2 separate regions of the Homo sapiens genome follow, and region 1 is linked to region 2. The links come from fine-mapping of genetic effects on gene expression. A gene starts in region 2. The other region holds a variant in brackets. All regions are shown on one strand. Distances are between the middles of the regions.

Region 1 (9,524 bases), 130 kb after region 2:
TAACCCCATCTTACAAATAAAGAATCTGTCTTAGAGGTAATGTTACTTGTCCACAGCCCCGCACAACCAAAACTAGGATGGAAACTAAGAACTGCCTGACTCCAAAGTCCTCCTAATCCCCAGGCTTTTCCCACATCCAGACAGGACAGGTGGAGAGGTAGGCCAAGCCAAGACGGCTTGGGGGCAGAATGGGAGAAGGAGCTCAAAAAGAAAATGGGAGAGAAAGTAGCTGGGAAGCTAAGAGTGCTGAGGAAAATTCCAGCTGGGGGTGGGACCACGCTACAAACTCGGGACTCTAAAGATTCTTACCTTCCTTGAAGACTCCATTGACAGAAAAACACAGCAATGTGCTCTGAAAGAGAAGCAGCATCAGGTACAATGTACACTTCTCAGAGCCTGAGTGCCCCCCCTTGCCTATTAAATGCCACCCCCACCCCAATTCTAGGCTTCTGTCAGGCGCAAGCAGGAGCTTACTGTCTGGGCGCTTATGTCTACCACGAAGGAATTGACGTCGTGCTGGGTTTTGGGCAACTCATTGAGGAAGGCAACAACGTTGAGACGCGTGTGCTTCAGCAGCCGGAACCGCAAGGCTGTGGGTAGAGGAGAAAGCTCAGTGGTGCTGCCACACACTCCTGAGTTCTGACTGATTCCTTCCCATGCCCTTTTCCCATATTTTGTTCGTATCACACACTTACTAGGGTCTTTAAGCTTCTTCACATTTCTGCTATCCTTGAAATACTCGGCTAAGCTGCTTCTGGGGGAATAAAAGGAATGGACGTGGTGTTCAGAGCAGTGCTGCCAGCAGGTGTGCCCTGTATCTGCTGGGAAACCCAGTGGTCCCGGGCAGATTCTGGGATGTGATACTAACCGGGCAGGGTTCTGAGGAATGAAAGGAATGCTCAGGGAACAGCAGGCCCCATCATGGTAGGCATCCAGGAGCCCTTGTCGGTCTCCAGAGTCGTAAATTGCATAGTACCTATGGGAAAAACAAAAAAGAAAGTATGGGCTCTGTGGTCTACAGCCATACAAGGACCCAGTAGCTCCCAAGAGTGAGTTGTGGCCGGGCATGGAAGCTCATGCCTGTAATCCCAGCACTTTGGGAGGCTGAGATGGGTGAATAGCTTGAGCCCAGGAGTTCAAGACCAGCCTGGGCAACATGGCGAAACCCTGTCTCTACTAAAAATACAAAAAAAATGGCTAGGTGCGGTGGCTCACGCCTCTAATCCCAACACTTTGGGAGGAAGAGGCAGGTGGATCATGAGGTCAGGAGTTGGAGACCAGCCTGGCCAACATAGTGAAATCCCATCTGTACGAAAAATACAAAAATTAGCCAGGTGCAGTGGCACACACCTGTAGTCCCAGCTACTGGGGAGGCTGAGGCAGGAGAATCACTTGAACCCTGGGAGGCAGAGGTTGCAGTGAGCCAAGATCACACCATTGCACTCCAGCCTGGGTGACACAGTGAGACACTGTCCAAAAAAAAAAAAAAAAACAAAACAAAAAACAAAACAAAAAGATTGATGTGTGCCTGGGTCTGCCCACCATTCCCCCTCAACCTCGGGGTGGGGAGGGGGGACCCTGGGATACTTACTGTTGCAGGAAGTGCAAGACCAGACTCTTCAAGTTTTCTGTTCCAAAATAGCTTCCCTGAAATCAAACAGGTATTAGGAACATGGAAGCAGTATTCTCTCCACACACAAGTTCTTACTCTGTCCATGCTTCCTACCTTGCAGGGCGGTAACGTCGTGGGGGCTTCAACATCAAAGGCAATTGGTGGGGGTAGCTCATGGCCATCCTGTGGAAAGGAAGTAAAAGTTGACAGTGTAGACTGGGCCCAGTGGCTCACACCTGTGATCCCAGAACTTTGGGAGGCCGAGGCAGGCAGATGGCTTGAGCTCAGGAGTTTGAGACCAGCCTGGCTGGACAACGTGGCAAAACCCATCTCTACCAAAAAAAATACAAAAATTAGCTGGGCATGGTGGTGCGTGCCTGGAGTCCTAGCTACTTGGGAGGCTGAAGTGGGAGGATCACTTGAGCCTGGCAGGCGAAGGTTGCAGTAAGCTACGATTGTGCCACTGCACTCCAGCCTGGATGACAGAGCCAGACCCTGTCTCAAAAAACAAAACAAACAAAAAAGAAAGTTGACAGTTTAAACCAGAGAGAAAAAGGCTGGGTGCATAAGTAGACTGAAGAACTAAGAGAGAAGGGTCAGAAGTCAAGTGTAAACGCATCATGAAAAGTATCCAGGGATCCAGGCTGGGCGCAGTGGCTCACACCTGTAATCCCAGCACACTGGGAGGCCAAGGTGGATGGATTAGTTGAGGTCAGGAGTTCAAGACCATCCTGGCCAACAAGATGAAACCCCCATCTCTACTAAAAATACACAAAGAAATTAGCCGGGCATTGTGGCACATGCCTGTAATCCCAGCTACTCAGGAGGCTGAGGCAGGAGAATCACTTGAACCCAGGAGGCAAACGGTGCAGTGAGTCAAGATTGCACCACTGCACTCTGGGTAACAGAGCAAGACTCCATCCAAAAAAAAAAAAAAAAAGGGCCTGGTGCGAGTGGCTCACGTCTGTAATCCCAGCACTTTGGGAGGCCGAGGTAGGTGGATCACCTGAGGTCAGGAATTCAAGGCCAGCCTGGCGAACATGGTGAAACCCTGTCTCTACTAAAAATACAAAAATTAGCCAGGTGTGGTAGCACATGCCTGTAATCCCAGCTACTTGGGCTCAGGAGGCTGAGGCAGGAGAATCGCTTGAACCTGGGAGGCAGAGGTTGCGGTGAGCTGAAATCATGCTGTTGCACTCCAGCCTGGGCGACGAGTGAAACTCCGTCTCAAATAAAAAAAAAAAAAAGAAAAAGAAAAAGAAAAAGAAACCTATCCAGGAATCCTTGTGAGTGAGAGATGCTGTGCTTGTTAGAATGAAAAAATTATGGACTTACCAGGCGTAGTAACTTGGGAAATCGTTCGCGAATGGCGCTGTCAAGAACGGGACAGAAGTGAGTGATGCTTCAGAGCCACCGTGCCTCCTGGGCTGCTCTAGGAGCAAATATACCAAACCCGAGGGACAGCCCATCCCATCCTGCTCATCCCTCCACTCCCTCCCAGCCTGTGCTCAGGGAAAAATGGCCCCCACTCCCCACCTGACCCGGGGCACCCAGACATGGACTGCCTTGAAGGCTGTCTCTTTTCTCTCTGCCTGACCCTGAGTGTCAAGGAGCAGTACTCCAAGCCCAGGCTTTAAGCCCAGGACCTCTTTCCCCTCCCTGCCCCCCTTACCTTCCACCTACTCACCTGTGCAGCCCCGGGAGGAGGGAATGGGGTGGGAGCCCAGGGGCTCCGCTGCCTCACCAGGTATCCATCAGTTCTGCCAGGTCTGGCTTTGGCCAAGACCCAAACACACCACAGGGATGGCACAGGATGTTGGGGCAGGGAGATGAGCAGGTGGGGCTCAGGAAGAGGAGAGGCAAAGGAATAAGAAAGGAAAAGGAGGAAAAAGAGAAAAAGGCAAGATGGGGCAGGGGCAAGGGAGAGATGGGGAGGTATAGGAGACAGACAGAAAAAGGAAAGAGAAAGCAAAGAAAAAGAGAAAGAACTACAAGGCAAAAAAGCATCTAGAAAAATGAGGGAGAAAAGGGAGAAAGACACCCTGACACAGCCCTTTCTTTCAGCTGCCCCATCCCTGTGGTCCAAGGTAGAAATGAGAAACAAATCCTTGCTGTGGTGAGTGGGCACTTGCTGTTGGCCAGGTCTCTGTCTGCTACCTGGGTCCCGATCTGAACTGGGCGTGGGAAGCAAAGCAGCCATGGGGGCAGGAGACCTCCCTCAGAAGGTGTGAGGGTTCAGGCCCCTGTAGGATTGTGGGGGTGAGGGTCCATGCCCCACCTCTGTTGCCCCCAAGTTCTCTCCTGATGGCCCCTCTGCGACTGTGCCTGTCTTAGGTTGTTCCTTCCCTGAGGAATCTTACCCGTCTCTGGCTAACCAGCCATCCACCGGGGCCAAACAGGGTGACGTGCAGTGTGTGAGTGAGGGAGAGGCAGCGCCCCCGAGGGGGTCAGTTCTCTGTCTCCTTGGTAGCCTATGCCCCCGTGGCCTCCACGCCCAGCACCTGCCTTGGGATTCCCTCGCCTGCTGGCGGGGCCCCAGCTCTGGTCACATCTTGGGGAACCCAGGTTTCTTCTTCAGGGAGAGCCCAGCTCATAGCACTGGGCAAGAGAGACAGATTGCATGCCACCAGCCCCTAGGAGGCCTCAACCTCAGCATGGACAGCAACAGCCCTGGGCAAGTGGATCCTGAGAAAAGGGTCCCTCTTGGCGCAAGGGCAAGAGGGGCCATCACAGTACAAAGGAGGGAAGGCCCATCTCAGTAGGAAGTCCCAGGTAGGGAGGGCTTCCTCAACCCATGGACACCAGGCTCTTGGCACAAGGCAACCCCATCTATAGGGTATGTACAAGATACCCTCTGGTTAGAGTAGAAAGGGGAGATGCCTTTCCTGGAACAACAGGGTAGGGAGATTCTAGAAAAGGTTGTGTTCAGGAAGAAAGAGAAAGGCCACAGACCCAGCAAACAGATAGTCAAGTCAGAAGAGAAGAGAGAACATCTCAGGACAAAGCTGGAAGACACAGACAGACCAAAGTGGGGAGCACGCGATCCTCTCAAAGGACAGGTGGTTCCAGCTCAGGGCTGCACATCTCCGCAGACGGGCCCTGGTCAGGATGCATTAGCTCAGCCTCCCAGGGGGTGAAGGTCCCCAGGAGGGGAGACACAGGCTACAACTGACCTGATGTAGGTGGACTGGTCTCGGAAGGTGTCACACAGGGAGTTTCCATCGAGCCAGAGCTCTTCTAGCTTCAGCCCCTTTATCTTGTCCAATTCCCGCTCAGACTTCAACTGCAAAGGGTGGAAGGAACAAAGGGAGGAGACCCTGGTGAAGACAGCCAGCTGGCTCCCCATACCCCCAGTCCCTACGCTTAGCTCTGAGATCTTTTCTAATCTTTTAAAATTTTTT[CT/C]TTTTTTTTTTTTTTTGGGACAGGGTCTCACTCTGTCACCCAAGTTCAGTGCCGTGGCATGATCATAGTTCACTGCAGCCTCAAACTCCTGGACTCAAGAGATCCTCCCACCTCAGACTCCTGGGTAGCTAGGACTACAGGCATGTGACATCATGCTCGACTAATTTATTTTTTAAATTAAAAAAATTTTTTTGAGACAGGTTGCTCAGGCTAGAATGCAACGGCACAATCATAACTCACTGCAGCCTTGAACTCCTGAGCTCAAGCAATCCTCCCACCTCAGCCCCCTGGGGCAGCTTGGACTAGAGGCGTGCAAACTCCTAGCCTTAAGTGATCCTCCTGCCTTGGCCTCCCAAAGTGTTAGGATTAGAGTTGCAAACCAGCACATCTGGCCTGAGTTCTCTCTCTTGCCTCTTGCCATCACTGGACAAACTCTCTACACCCTCTACCCACCCCTTCAAAAATATAGCCGAGCTATCAATTCTCACTTCATTTCCAGAAAGGTTTAGGATCTTCAGGTTGGGTGCCTTCTGAACAATGCTAGACATGTCATCCAGCCTGTACAGCCTGTTGTTGCTCAAGTTCAAGGACAATAGCTGTGAGGAGAGAAGAGTTTAGAGGAGGCACCACCAGCAAGTGGATCAGAGACGAATCTGCCCTCCAGCCACTTCCTATCTAACACACCCTGCTTCCTCATGCCTAATACTGGGCCAAAGGCCTTACCTCAGGGATGTTCTCTTCAATGATCCTCAGGGTAGCTGCCATACAGCTTCTGCGATTCAGGACAACGTCAATGTTCTGGGCCACCAAATCTTCAGGAAGCAGAAGGGAAGGAAAGGGAAGACTGAGAGGGTTTGCCCATGCCAGCATTAGCAGTAAAACATCCTCAAACTTTCCCTCCCTGACAGATCCCACCTTATCACCACCTATCTGAGAACTACTGCTGTCAACCATACCTGGGTCTGAACGGAGGCCTTTGAGGTCAAGGGCTTGTTGGGAGCCATCGTATCGTTTGCTCATGATCAGCTAGAGGAAAAAGAAGGGTTTAGTGGTCACTGGGTTTGTGTGTGGGGGGTGGGGGTGTGAGAAGTAGTAAGACTGGGTTGGAAACATCTAATTTGAGCCTGCCTCACCTTTAGCTGTTCTACTTGTTCTGGCTTCAGTTCATTCAGTATAGTGTGGGGTGGAGCAGAAGAGTTGATGATGATAGATATCTGGAGGGAAGACACAGAGGGCACAGAAAACTCTAGGGAAGCCTAAGCCGCAAGAACAAGACCCAGTCCCTGCTCTGAGCACCAACCTCCACCTCCAGCCAAGCCAGGCCCTTTAAACACACCCTTCGGTTCTCCCGATCCAAAATCTTATAGTTGACAGCCTTCAATGCAGAGGCAGTACTGGCGTCTTCAACGAAGAACTGGGCCCGTGTATTCTCATAGTGAAACTACAAGAGGAAACAGGAGCATTACACTGGGAGTCCAGAGCCCTTGGGGAGGGGCATTACGCTGGGAGTCCAGCTTGCCCCTTCACCATCCCTGGTGCCTGGCCAGCCAGCCACTCAGGCCTTGTCTTACCTCAATAGGGGTGAAGGGCACACTGCACTTGCTCTGAATCATGCTCAGGAGCCATGCCTTGTCATACTTTCTGCCATAAGGAATCTAGAAATGAGAGAAAGAGAAAAGAAGGGAATGATAAGTAAGGCTGAATAGCAGACCCAATACAATGCCTTTTATACCTTCTACCAAACTTTTAAAGACTATCTAAAGAAAGGACCAGTACTAGGTTTTCTACTTGAGATACACATAGATTCTTTAACTCCTTTCTGTCTACTTACACTTACTATTTTTTCTTAGTAACAGGGCCTCACTCTGTCACTCAGGCTGGAGTGCAGTGGTGCGATCATAGCTCACTGCAGCCTTCATTTCCTAGGCTCAAGCGATCCTCCTGTCTCAGCTTTCTGGAGTAGCTAGGACTACAGGCATGTACTACCATGCCCGGCTAATTTTAAAATTTTCTGTAGAGAAGGGGTCTTGCTGTATTTCCCAGACTGGTCTTGAACTCCCAGCCTCAAGTGATCCTCCACCTCGGCCTCTCAAAGTGCTGGGATTACAGGCATGAGCCACTGTACCCAGCCCATTTACACTTATAATCTCTCAAAAAAAAATCAATTTTATTTATTCTAAAAGTTCCAAGATATTATTTACACCTTGCCTGCCCCTCAGAGAACTCCAGGGCACTCCAGGGACTCCAAGCCCCACACTCAGCCTGAGCCAAATGAAGACATCCAGAGGAATTACTCCCTCCCCCAACCAAAATTTTCATATTTCTCTTCCACCCCTTCTCTGAACCTGCTCTAAGGTGTTGGAAGATACTGATTCCTAGGAGAAAAGATAGATACTTGAGTGTGGAGTAATCAGATGACAAGGAGAATTTTTGGGCTGGGTGCGGTGGCTCATGCCTATAATCCCAGCACTTTGGGGGGCCAAGGCGGGCAGATCATGACGTCAGGAGTTCGAGACCAGCCTGGCCAATACAGTGAAACCCCGTCTCTACTAAAAATACAAAAATTAGCCGGGCGTGGTGGTGGGTGTCTGTAGTCCCAGCTACTCGGGAGACTGAGGCAGAATAGCTTGAACCCGGGAGGCGGAGGCTGCAGTGAGCCGAGATCACGCCACTGTACTCCAGCCTGGGTGACAGAGCAAGACTCCATTTAAAAAAAATAATAATAATAATTTTTGTGGAATAAAATTAAACATCTCCACTCTCAGCGTGGCCTCCTATCTCTACTGTACCATCTACTTTCTCAAAGTACTCACTGTAATCTTGAACCAGTTCTTTGAGGTCCCATCCTGGCTGGTGCCAGCCCCTCCTCTCTCTGGAGGAGCTCTGTCTCTCCGCACAGTAACATGAATGCGATCTCGATCATGCCAAGTATCACCCCGACGGTTAGGTCGGGTGGTATAGGGGTTGCTGTGGGTAAGCAGAGAATAAAATGACCACAAATGCTAGGAAAGTCTTCTCAAAGGCCTTCCTGCACTGTTAGTGGGACTACAACTAAGACTGTTTAATCACTAAGCTAGTCCTGGCATTTCTCACTCTAACAGGTGGGAAAGGAAATGACATGGACAGTAAAAGGGCCATATAATCTCATGAGCCACTAAATTCAAACCAGACCAACTGGTCACTCACTATCGTACTCGGGGACCATCCTGGGCATCACTCATTGCCACATCTCCATCATCTTCCTCAAGGCGGGAAGACCGAATACCAGAACCGCCTCTTCCAGACCTACGGTTTCCTTCACCATATTTCCACCGGAAGGGACCCCGGCCTTTCTTCTTTCTTTGAGGGAAATTAACGCGTTCATCATCGTGTTCTAGAGTTAGAAACAGGAACACAAATTAGAAGTAAGTAACTGGTCCGGTTTGGTGTGGCAATCATAGCTTCTAGTACTCTGAACTATTGGAAGAGATACATACTAACGACAGAGGCCATCTCCATGCAAACTCCGCTCCCTATCCACAGGAAAGAACCCTCTCTGTGGGAGGGCAGCATCAGGGAAAAGTTACTGGAAAACTGTGTAGGGCTTTTGAAAAATGAAGTAGAAACTGGAATTAGAGAGAAGCAGGATGTAGAAATGTGAGACCCAAAAGTGTAACTGAACACAAATCAGACCTCTGAAAGCCACCTGAAATCTGCCACTCAGTACTTTGTCTATACAGTGCAGACGCCAGTTACAAATATGACCAGTTTAAGGATCCTCTAAAAATTCTCCTTGTTCTCAAACTGCCACTTTGAAGTTTTGTGAGGAGCTCTTCGTTTCCATGGCCAGAAATGTCCTTTAACTCAGGAGACAAATTCTAGACTCAGGCTCTAGTGGCAGTGCCAGGCTAGGGTGCTTAACCAGGGACCCTGGAATGCTCTCCAGGAAGATGACCTTCTGATTCATGCTGTGTAGGACTGGCGTCTTAAAAAAGGTCCCTAACTCCCAAAAGAGGTCTGCCTAATACCCAGCACTCTGTAAACAATGAATCTCAACAAATGACCCTAGGAAAAAAGAACATAGAAGGCGCAGCTAACATTCACTGAGAACTTTCTCCAGTGCCGGCCACTATGCTTCAGGCACTTGATAGGAATGATCTCATTTCCCCTCCCCACACACACTCTTAAGAAATGCTGTTGTTATTCCACATTAAGGGGGTGGAAAACGAGAGTTTTAAATTCACGGTTTCAACCTCCACCACGCACTCCTAACTTACTACAAAGAACTAACACCCAGTGTAGTGTTCAGACTAGAATATCCAGTTGATGTGTAAGTCTCGAATATTAAGCCAAAGCCCAGGCCCGAGAGTTCAAGACCGACTGGACGCAGTAAAAAATAGGGCATCAGGGCAGCCCACGAGCAGGGCACTCACTCACATTAAAGGAAGAGTCAGGCCGCCAAACCTAACTGACAGGCATCAACCACCCACAAAGTTCAAAGGAATCCCGTCACCCTACCCCCGAGCCATCC
Region 2 (11,183 bases):
GCTTACCAGCTTCTATCAGAATGCTTGAGGGTTCTAAACCCTCAGGGGACCCTGATTCAGTTCTCAGATGAGGACCCTGATGTGCGACTGCCCTGCCTGGAACAAGGGTCCTATGGCTGGACTGTGACTGTGCAGGAGCTAGGCCCGTTCAGGGGCATCACCTACTTTGCTTACTTGATTCAAGGCTCTCATTAAAGACATTTTAGTAGTCCTGACCCTAGTATTTCTGTGGGCAAGGAGAGGGCTGAAGAACTGTCTTTGCAAGCTATCTGGCTGCAAAGTGAGAATTTGAGTCCTGGCTTCCACATTTACTAGCTGGGTGCCATATTGCTGAATGTTTCTGTTCCCCAGTTTACTCATCTGCAGAGTGAGAATAACTTGGAGTTACGGAGATTACATACAATGATGTGCGCAATATTTAGCACAAAATGAATGCTGAAAAGAGAAGGTACAATTGGGTCATTCCCCAGTTTCAACTAACTGGAGCTCCTAAAAGCAGCAGACAGGAACTGAATCAAAACCCCTGCGCTGACTGACTTGTATAATCTAGTGGCCTAACCTGTAAGCCTCATTTTTGTCACCTGTAAAAGGAGATTGTAAGAGGATGGGTATAAGGAGCTTCATAAACCTGGATGAGATATTTGAGGGGGAGGGAACAATACTTACCCTCAAAGCTATTAGGAGGCAGGAGATGGGAATATTCCACAAAGCCACTTCTACAAACACGGGAGCCTGTTGAGTCCCAGAAGGGACAGTGGTTGGTGGCTTCCAGACATGCTGTGTCCTCAAGAATCCAACAAGCATCTTCTTCATCCTGGTCCTGCCCCCAGCTGAGTCCAGCGTTAAATGTTCTTAAAGGACTTCTAGGGTCCTGTGGGCTCCAAGCCCAGCCTGGGATGGAGGAAGAGAGGGGACAAAAATATTACTGATATATTATCAAATTACAAAACTAGGCCAGGCATGCTGGCTCATACCTATAATCACAGCACTTTGGGAGGCCAAGGTGGGCAGATTGCTTGAGCCCTGGCAATAAAGTGACACCCCTAACTCTACAAAAACAAATGAGCCCGGGATAGTGGCACAGGCATGTAGTTCCAACTACTCAGGAGGCTGAGCTGGGAGGACTGCTTGAACCCTGGGAGGTCAAAGCTGCAATGGGCCATGATAAGCTGCTGCACTTGAGCTAAAAATTAATTTCTGTGGTATTTTTTGCTTATAAAAAAATAGAGCAATTATATCACTAAGAGCCTAACCTCGCAGCCTCAATTTTCTCATTTATAAAGGGGAAGTACCTTCATTGGGTTGTTCTGAAAATCATGAAGTAAAAGTGTTTAGCATAGTACCTGGTACATAGTAAATGCTCAAAAGAATGTAGCTTCTTGGGAGGCTGAGGCGGGCAGATTGCCTGAGCTCAGGAGTTTGAGACCAGCCTGGGCAATATGGTGAAACCCCATCTCTACTAAAATACAAAAAAAATTAGTCGGGCGTGGTGGCCTGAACCTGTAGCCCCAGCTACTCAGGAGGCTGAGGCAGGAGACTTGCTTGGACCTGGGAGGCAGAGGTTGCAGTAAGCCGAGATCCTGCCACTGCACTCCGCCTGGGCAACAGAGGGTGACTCTGTCTCAAAAAAAAAAAAAAAAAAAAAAGTAGCTTCTGTAACAGTACACAGACGGGGCCGGGCGCGGTGGCTCACGCCTGTAATCCCAGCACTTTGAGAGGCCCAGGCAGGCGGATCACAAGGTAAGGAGATCCTGGCGAACAAAGTGAAACCCTGTCTCTACTAAAAATACAAAAAAATTAGCTGGGCGTGGTGGCGGGTGCCTGTAGTCCCAGCTACTCGGGAGGCTGAGGCAGGAGAATGGCACGAACCCAGGAGGCAGGGCTTGCAGTGAGCAGAGGTCATTGCCACTGCACTCCAGCCTGGGGGACAGAGCAAGACTCTGTCTCAAAAAAAAAAACCAAAACCAAAACAAACAAACAAAAAAACAGTACACAGAGATGAAAAAAGTCTAGAAGAGAAGGTATCGAATATGTAAACTATTTTTAGGTAGTTGGTCTTGGGGTAATTTTTTTTGTTTTTTGTTTTTTTTGAGGCAGAATCTGGCTCTTGCCCAGGCTGGAGTGCAGTGGTGGGATCTCAGCTTACTGCAAACTCCACATCCCGGGTTCACGCCATTCTCCTGCCTCCCGAGTAGCTGGGACTACAGGCGCCCGCCACCACGCCCGGCTAATTTTTTGTATTTTTAGTAGAGACGGGGTTTCACCATGTTAGCCAGGATGGTCTCGATCTCCTGACCTTGTGATCTGCCCGCCTCAGCCTCCCAAAGTGCTGGGATTACAGGCGTGAGCCACCGCGGCCAGCCTTAATCTGTACTTTCAAAATGTTTACATTGCTGCAGGAAAAGATAAAATTACCCCAAGACTGGCCGGCTTGGGAGGCTGAGGCAGGAGAATGGCGTGAACCCAGGAGGCGGAGCTTGCAGTGAGCTGAGATCGCGCCACTGCACTCCAGTCTGGGTGACAGAGCGAGACTCAGTCTCAAAAAAAAAAAAAAGAAGAAAAAGAAAGTACAGATTAAAGGATGGCACCCATTCTGATACCAAAACTGCTCTCTACAATTCATCAACTTTGCCAGCTGCCTTTTCTCTCCCACATCTTCACATTTATTGAGCACCTGCTGTGTGCCTGGCACTGCTGAATGCAGGGGCCGTAACTGACTTCCATCTTGGCTCTGCCCAGAACATTCAGCTCACAGTGGCCCCCTGAATGAGCCACCTCCCTCACCTGGCTCTTCACTTTGGTCTTGGAAGAAGGCCTCAGCATCCTCTTCCTCACCATCAGTGAGCAGCAGCAGCTCCTCATGGGGCAAATGGAGATCCCCACTCTCTTCATTCACCTCACTGGATTCCACCACAATAGACGGCAGATGGGACTTTTGAGAGAAATCCTGAATAGGGACAGCAGGGAGGTTGGGCCAAACTGGAGGGTAAGCCAGCTGCCAGACACAGGCTGAGGAAGTACTAACCTGAATGTGCTGGTGACCTTCAACCTTGCCAATTTTTCCTCTGTCCCAGAGAGGGTTGGGCAGCCTGGGACTTTCTGGATGCTGGGAGGAGCCTGGGCTATTTCTAGTCCAAAGCCCATCCTCCTTGCTTCTCCCTGGCACAAGGGCCATGGTGGTGATTCTTAGAGTGCAAGATGATTGAACTCAGAGGAGAGTACTGCTGCCCAGTGCACCCCACAAACTGTTCCTTTAATCTTCTTTGGAGCCTGGCCCCTTAAGCACCGACTGTGCTAAGCGATTATACGCTTTCAGGGGAGGGGAAAATGCCCAAGAGGTGAGATAGGATCTTTATTTCTACTTACTCCCTGGAGACACTGGGATGGCAACAAGGGTAGGAGACAAGGGCACCTGGATTAAAGCCCTGTGGGCCAAGAGTTGTGATAACCAACTTGGAATTTCCTGACTCCTATGCTTACTGATTTTTCCCAACCTGGTATGTTTGTATGTTATTTAATGAATATTTATATGGTGTTTACTCTTTGGCAGGAGCTGTTTTAATTGCTTTACATATAACTAATTTAATTATCCTAAAACTGTGAGACAAGTACTGTTGTTATAAGCTTCATTTTCTGATGCAGAAACCGGGGCACAAGAACTTGCCTATAATCAGTCACACAGCTAAGAGGTGTTTTCTTCTGTAAAGCAGAATTCAGTATGTTACACGAATCCAGCCTTTTAGTGGTTGAAAACAAAGCAAAACAGCCGGGCGCGGTGGCTCACACCTGTAATCCCAGCACTTTGGGAGGCCGAGGTGGGCGGATTGGGCGGATCACGAGGTCAGGAGTTCGAGACCAGCCTGACCTACATAGTGAAACTCTTTCTCTACTAAAAATACAAAAAATTAGCCGGCCGTGGTGGCGGGCGCCTGTAGTCCCAGCTACTCGGGAGGCTGAGGCAGGAGAATGGCGTGAACCCGGGAGGCAGAGCTTGCAGTGAGCCGAGATCACGCCACTGCACTCCAGCTGGGCAACAGAGTGAGACTCTGTCTCAAAAAGCAAAAAAGAAAACGAAGCAAAACAAAAAGCAATACCAGCCGGGCGTGGTGGTGCACGCCTGTAATCCCAGCTATCCGGGAGGTTGAGGCAGGAGGATCGCTTGGGCCCTGGAAGTCGAGGCTTCAGTGAGCCATGATCGCGCCACTGCACTCCAGCCCTGGGCGACAGAGCGAGACCTTGTCTCCAAAAACAAACAAAACCACGCCCACACACTAACAACAACAACAAAACCAAAAAAAAACCCAAACAATACCAAGTGTGTACCATGACGAGAAAAGGAATAGGTTGTTTGTAAAATAAATGTTAAAGATAAGTAACTATTACCCATTTCTCCAACCAGTATACTTGACTTTGAGTGTTTGTTCCAGAGTTGAGGGGATGGAGAGGGATGTGTATGTGTGTAGATGCCCTCCATGCGCTGTGTTGAAAACGCGCGGGTGACTGCAGGAAACCACAGAGCACAGCTCGGGCCTCTACTGATCGGGAAACGTCGGAAGACAGAAAAATGGGCAATCATAAAACCCACGGCAACCATGAAGACACGCACTCTCCCCCTAGCAATCCCACCCCGGAATTGAGGACACAGGGTCCCCGCGCTCAGCCCTTGGTGCCAGCACTTCTTGGACACCTCAACCCCCTCAGCTAAACCTGAGATCCAAGCGCTCCGGATTCCAAACGTTTCCTCGAGCAGGTCCTCTCTAGCCGGCCGCTTATCTATGGTTTCTGCTATAGGGCGCTCTAGCCTGCGCCAAGGGGTAGTGAGACCGCGCGGCAACAGCTTGCGGCTGCGGGGAGCTCCCGTGGGCGCTCCGCTGGCTGTGCAGGCGGCCATGGATTCCTTGCGGAAAATGCTGATCTCAGTCGCAATGCTGGGCGCAGGGGCTGGCGTGGGCTACGCGCTCCTCGTTATCGTGACCCCGGGAGAGCGGCGGAAGCAGGAAATGCTAAAGGTAGAAGCAACTGGTAGTCCCGAGGAAGGGTGGGCGGGTGGAGAGCCCCGGACTGGAGCTCCTGCGAACTCCCCTTCCTGCCCTCAGGAGATGCCACTGCAGGACCCAAGGAGCAGGGAGGAGGCGGCCAGGACCCAGCAGCTATTGCTGGCCACTCTGCAGGAGGCAGCGACCACGCAGGAGAACGTGGCCTGGAGGAAGAACTGGATGGTTGGCGGCGAAGGCGGCGCCGGCGGGAGGTCACCGTGAGACCGGACTTGCCTCCGTGGGCGCCGGACCTTGGCTTGGGCGCAGGAATCCGAGGCAGCCTTTCTCCTTCGTGGGCCCAGCGGAGAGTCCGGACCGAGATACCATGCCAGGACTCTCCGGGGTCCTGTGAGCTGCCGTCGGGTGAGCACGTTTCCCCCAAACCCTGGACTGACTGCTTTAAGGTCCGCAAGGCGGGCCAGGGCCGAGACGCGAGTCGGATGTGGTGAACTGAAAGAACCAATAAAATCATGTTCCTCCACCCAGAATGAGCCCTGCAGTCGACACCTACCAATGCTTAGAGACGCGTGGTCGGTGCTGGGGGCGCGGCCTGGAGCTGCTGCCTGTCCCACCCCACCAGAAGAGGCTGATCCCGATAGGTATCTGACCACATTTTTTTTTTTTTTTTTTTTTTGAGACGGAGTCAATGTCACCCAGGCTGGAGTGCAGTGGCACGATCTCGGCTCACTGCAACCTCCGCCCCTGGGTTCCAGCAATTCTCCTGCCTCAGCTTCCCGAGTAGCCGGGATCACAAGTGCGCGCCACCAAGCCCAGCTAACTTTTGTGTTTTTAGTTGAGACAGGGTTCACCATGTTGGCTAGACTGGTCTCGAACTCCAGACCCAGGTGATCCGCCCGCCTCGGCCTCCCAAAGGGCTGGGATTACAGGCGTGAACCACCTCGCCCTGCCGCGGCCACATTTTTTCTTTTTTTTGAGATGGAGTCTTGCTCTTGTCACCCAGGCAGGAGTGCAGTGGCGCAATCTTGGCTCACTGCAACCTCTGCCTCCTGGGTTCAAGCTGTTCTCCTTACTCAGCCTCCCATGTAGCTGGGATTACAGGCGTCCGCAACCACGCCCGGCTGATATTAGTAGTTTTAGTAGAGGCGGGTTTCACCATGTGGCCAGGCTGATCTCGAACTCCTGACCTCAGGCAGTTCACCCGTCTCAGCCTCCCAAAGTGCTGGGATTAGAGGCGTGAGCCACTGCGCCCGGCCAACCACATTTTCAAAACAGGTCATGTGGTGTCAGGTTGGAGTGTACTTCCAGGGATAACCGTGGGACATTCTTGAAATCTGAACTATCCTGGGAAGTCTTGAAGTAATGGATGCCTATAGTGGACACTCAGGACTCCTGTCCTTGGAGCGAGATTGGAGGGGCATCTAGCACTTAACATATGCCACAATGCTTTCTGTGGCCATTATTTAACCTCTGGTTAAACAAGCTTAGGAGGCTGACTTACTAGTAGTAAAAGGAGTGTGCTTTGAGTCACAGATCCTGGTTGAACTCCAGCATGTTACAAACCTCAGCCCTGTTCTATGAAAGGTCATAACTACGAGGATTATTGTAAAACATTAATTTAGAAATGTAAAGTGGTCCCCAATCTCTGGATCTGGTCAGGATTTATTGGAGCTGCCACTGAGGGGATTAAATAAGTGGGGTCAAAGCCCCACAGCCTAGTCAACCAAGTTGCTCCTCTTTTGTCTATCCTGTGGTTCCCAAGCAAGACTGCAATTGAAAAAAAGGCTGCTGTTATTAAAGTCAGAACACCAAATAAAGCTTTTTTTTTTTTTTTGAGACAGAATTTCTGTGTTGTTGCCCACGCTGGAGTGCAATGGAGCGATCTCAACTCAATGCAACCTCCGCCTCCTGGGTTCAAGCGATTCTCCTGCCTCAGCCTCTCCAGTAGCTGGGACTACAGGGGTGCGCCACTATGCCAGGATAATCTTTGTATTTTTAGTAGATACAGGGTTTCACCATGTTGGCCAGGCTGGTCTTGAACTCCTGACCTCAGGTGATCTGCCCGCCTCAACCTCCCAAAGTGCTGGGATTACAAGCATGACCCGCCGTGCCTGGCCCAAATAAAGCTTTCTAACACTGGGGTGTAAACCCAGATATAAGTATTGGTGCTCTTTTCAGCTGCTGGAACACATGTTACATGTGATCTTTACAGAGTAACTGTGGCCTTTCTCCTAGTCCAGGAAGGAGTGGAGTCAGGAGCAGTTTGACAGGACAGCAGGGTGGGGTGATCAGCAGCCAGAGGGACTATCATAGATAAGCTCATCAGTGCTTCTTGGTTGGTTTTAAAAAGCAGAGAGAAGCGCCAACATGGTGAGACCCTGTATCTACTAAAAATACAAAAATTAGCTGGGCATGGCGGCACGTGCCTGTGGTCCCAGCTACTCGGGAGGCTGAGGCAGGAGAATCGCTTGAACTCAGGAGGCAGAGGTTACGGTGAGCCGAGATCGTGCCACTGCACTCCAGCCTGGGTAACAGAGTGAGGAGATGTCTCAAAAAAAAAAAACAAAAAAACAAAACCCTTTTAGCCCAGCATTTTGGGAGGCTGAGACAGGTGGATCTTGAGGTCAGGAGTTCAAGACCAGCCTGGCCAACATGGTGAAACCCCATCTCTACTAAAAAATACAAAGAATTAGCTGGGTGTGGTGGCACACACCTGCAATCCCAGCTACTCGAGAGGCTGAGGCAGAATTGCTTGAACCCGGCAGACGTTGGTTATAATGAGCCGAGATTGCACCACTGTACTACAGCCTGGGATCTAGAGCAAGACTCCACCTCAAATAAGTAAATAAAATTATCCTTTTAGTAGCTAATGCTTACTGGGGACTTATTAGGTACCAGGCACTATGCTAAAGCATCTTATACCAGCATTATGTAACCCTCATGACAATCCCAAGAAATAGGCACTATTCCTATTCTATTAAGAAGCTAGGTTTTCTGGGTGAGATGTGAAATAACTTAAATGACATCACTAAGGTAGCAAAGCTGAAGGAAAAGTATAAGAAGGATGTTCCTGACTATAAGTAGAAAGGTTGGTTTGATGATGCAAAGGGTCCTGCTAAAGTTGCCTGGAAAAAGGTGGAAGAGGAAGATGAAGAGGAGGAGGATGAATAAAGAAACTGTTTATCTGGCCAGGCACAGTGGCTCAAGACTGTAATCCCAGCACTTTGGGAGGCAGAGGCGGGCGGATCATCTGAGGTCAGGAGTTCAAGACCAACCTGACCAACAAGGTGAAACCCTGTCTCTTAAAAAAAAAAAAAAAAAAAAATTAGCTGGGCGTGGTGGTGCATGCCTGTAACCCCACCTACTCAGGAGGCTAAGGCAGGAGAATCGCTTGAACCCGGGAGGTGGAGGTTGCAGTGAGCTGAGATCGCTCCATTGCACTCCAGCCTGGGCAACAAAAGCAAAACTCCATCTCAAAGGAAAAAAAAAAAGAAACTGTTTATCTGCCTCCTTGTGAGTACCTTAAGAGTAGGGGAGCCCCGTAATGGACACATCTCTTATTTGAGAAGTGCCTGTTGTCCTCATTAGGTTTAATTACAAAATTTGATCATGATATTGTATAGTCTCTCAAAGTACTCTAAAAATTGTCAGTGGTGGCCGGGCGTGGTGGCTCACGCCTGTAATCCTAGCACTTTGGGAGGCCGAGGCGGGTGGATCACTTGAGGTCAGGAGTTTGAAACCAGCTTGGCCATCATGGTGAAACGCTGACTCTACTAAAAATACAAAAAATTAGCTGGGCATGGTGGTGCGCGCCTGTAATCCCAGATACTTGGGAGGCTGAGGCAGAAGAATCCCGTGAACTCAGGAGGCGGAGGTTGCAGTGAGCCAATACTGTGCCACTGCACTCCAGCTTGGGTGACAGAGCAAGACTCCATTTCAAAAAAAAAAAAAAAAAAGAAATTCTCAGTGGTTTACATGAAGTGGCCATGGGTGTCTGGAGCACCCCAAAGCTGTATCAAAGTTGTGCATATTTCCAAACATTTTTAAAATGAAAAGGCACTCTCATGTTCTCAATAAATAAATAAATAAATAAATAAATAAAGCAGCAGGCCGGGCGTGGTGGCTCATGCCTGTAATCCCAGCACTTTGGGAGGCCAAGGCAGGCGAATCACAAGGTCAGGAGTTTGAGACCAGCCTAGCCAACATGGCAAAACCCCGTCTCTACTAAAAATGGAAAAAATTAGCTGGGCGTGGTGGTGGGTGCCTGTAATCCCAGCTACTAGGGAGGCTGAGGCAGGAGAATCGCTTGAACCTGGGAGGCAGAGGTTGCAGTGAGCTGAGATTGCGCCACTGCACTCTAGCCCAGGCAACAGTGCAAGACTCCGTCTCAAAAATAAAAATAAAAAAGCAGCAGCTGGGCTTTTATTTTCTGTCTTACCATAGGAGTAAAAGGTGCCATCCAATGTACTCTCCACCCCTTTTAGCACCTCTCCTCCGCAACTTCCCCAGCAGTTAATCAGACCCAGAGATTACAAACAAGTGTCTTTGTTGGAAACTAAAGATGAGGAAGAGGGTCTACTGTTCCGTTTTAGCCTCTTCCTCTGCCTTAGTTTTGTCCCTCCCAGCCATTCAGGAAGGAGTCAGGCATGTACAGAACTCAGGGTCTATTTATTAGGAAGGAGATGTCAGTGCTTTATCAAAGATGAAGGGGTCACAGAGGGACAATGGGACAAAGGCCCTCAGCTGGGACATTTCTTGGCCACAATGAGAACAGCAGAAGGCACGAGTCCTGAAGATGGAAGAAAACAGGCTTGAACCACAAGGATACTTGGTTTTTGCTCCCAAAATTCCTGGCCTTGCACCATGTTCACAAAGCCCCTTCTCTTTGCATCCCTCCTTTTCCTAGGCATGCCTCCCTACTCCCCCAGTTTCTAGTCCTGGTTTCTAGTCTTGCAGCCATACCCAGCTCCTGCAGAGGCCGCTCCATGTCAGCTTCTGAGAAGGCCCGTCTGGGGAAGCCACTGAGCAATTGCACAGGGTCCTGGCCCCCACCTAGTTCCTCCCCACGGTGGAGCTCCACATAGAGCCTCACAGCTGCCAGCTGTTCCCGGGCCCGGAACGTCTGGGTCAGTGAGGTCCCATCTGGCAGCCTGACCTAAAGGGCAAGGGAGATACTCAGTATTGTGGGCATCAAAACTGAATGAGGTGCCCAAGTAAGGAAAAGAGCTAAAGCTGGGCCCCCTTCTTCTTAGATTGAACCAGCACAACTACTATTTAAAGCACCAAATGAACAGCCACTTAGGCTCCGCTTTACTAAGTGCGGATGAGAGACTCCCAGCTCCCTCACAACCTAAGAAAGACAAGGATAAGATTATACAAAAGAATCTGGATAAATACCACATCACCAGATAGCTACATAATAAACCAAATAAAAACATGAACAAGTAAAAGGGTAACTGCTGAGTAAGAGAGAGGTATGGGTTTAAATACAACTGGGGCAGGTGAAATTTGATACCTTTCCCAAGAGTAGAGATAGGATTTCAAAAGTCATTTACAAAGAAGGGAGAGATTTGGCAAAGGGCACGTTAACTGAAAAAAGCTCTGAGCTGGGCACCTTAACACGGAACAAAGGGGTCCCAAGAGGAAGATAAGAATTAGAATCAGTACCTGTATGCGACACTGGTCATACTCCCGCTTGGTGGGAGGCTCCTGGCTGGGAGAAGAGGGAACAGGACCTGGCTCTGGTGCCACTGGGGGTGGCTGAGAGCCCACACTGCCACCATACTAAAGGGCAAAGTAAAACAGTCAATCAGGTACTCACCCATCCTCAGGTGAAACAGATCATATAAGCCCATGCTTTCCCTCTGAAGCTGGAAAAGATTTACTAACCTGCCCACTCCATTACCCGTGGCGTCTTCTCAGTCACCTACCTTCTTGGCTCTCTCTGCTTTGTCCCTCTCGATCTTTTCTCTAACTCTTTGTCTGAAATGTAGACAAGAAGAAATTAGGTCAGACATCAACAAAGCAAATCTTGATTTCTTTCTCATCTGCTATCCATCATTTCCCCTGCCCAGACCTGGCTGCTAACTCCTCGGCCTTTTCCCTCCGCCTCTCCTCAGCAGCCCGGCGCATCTCATCTTCCTGTAGCCGCTGTCGTGCTGCTGACAACTCTTGCCCTTGTCTCCTGCG

Evidence for each region. PIP is the estimated chance that this variant, and not a neighbour inherited with it, causes the effect.
Region 1: its variant is fine-mapped to the expression of LBHD1 in B cells (Fairfax 2012, PIP 0.95).

What each region holds. Positions count from the first base shown.
Region 1 is chr11:62,795,592-62,805,115 of GRCh38, forward strand. NXF1 (nuclear RNA export factor 1) reads right to left here. Exons shown (of 21, transcript NM_006362.5): 2 at 8,201-8,387; 3 at 7,828-7,981; 4 at 6,586-6,669; 5 at 6,351-6,455; 6 at 6,148-6,228; 7 at 5,971-6,040; 8 at 5,738-5,826; 9 at 5,503-5,610; 10 at 4,786-4,895; 11 at 2,948-2,984; 12 at 1,727-1,795; 13 at 1,592-1,647; 14 at 869-976; 15 at 696-754; 2 more. Among named protein-coding and RNA genes, the nearest start is that of NXF1, 5.1 kb to the right of the region's middle. The variant CT/C (reference allele first, on the strand shown) is at 5,014.
Region 2 is chr11:62,666,857-62,678,039 of GRCh38, forward strand. It overlaps LBHD1 (LBH domain containing 1), which reads right to left and starts at 5,411. Exons shown (of 7, transcript NM_024099.5): 1 at 4,708-5,411; 2 at 3,026-3,185; 3 at 2,785-2,947; 4 at 667-891. The coding sequence starts at 3,175. It overlaps CSKMT (citrate synthase lysine methyltransferase), which reads left to right. Exons shown (of 3, transcript NM_001043229.2): 3 at 1-1,252. The coding sequence ends at 195. It overlaps UQCC3 (ubiquinol-cytochrome c reductase complex assembly factor 3), which reads left to right and starts at 4,817. Exons shown (of 2, transcript NM_001085372.3): 1 at 4,817-5,009; 2 at 5,097-6,830. The coding sequence starts at 4,890. The coding sequence ends at 5,258. It overlaps UBXN1 (UBX domain protein 1), which reads right to left. Exons shown (of 9, transcript NM_001286077.2): 5 at 11,071-11,183; 6 at 10,925-10,976; 7 at 10,662-10,778; 8 at 9,957-10,149; 9 at 9,644-9,783. The coding sequence ends at 9,734. RefSeq lists enhancers at 3,501-4,242, 4,243-4,982, 4,983-5,724, 5,091-5,250 and a silencer at 5,491-5,620.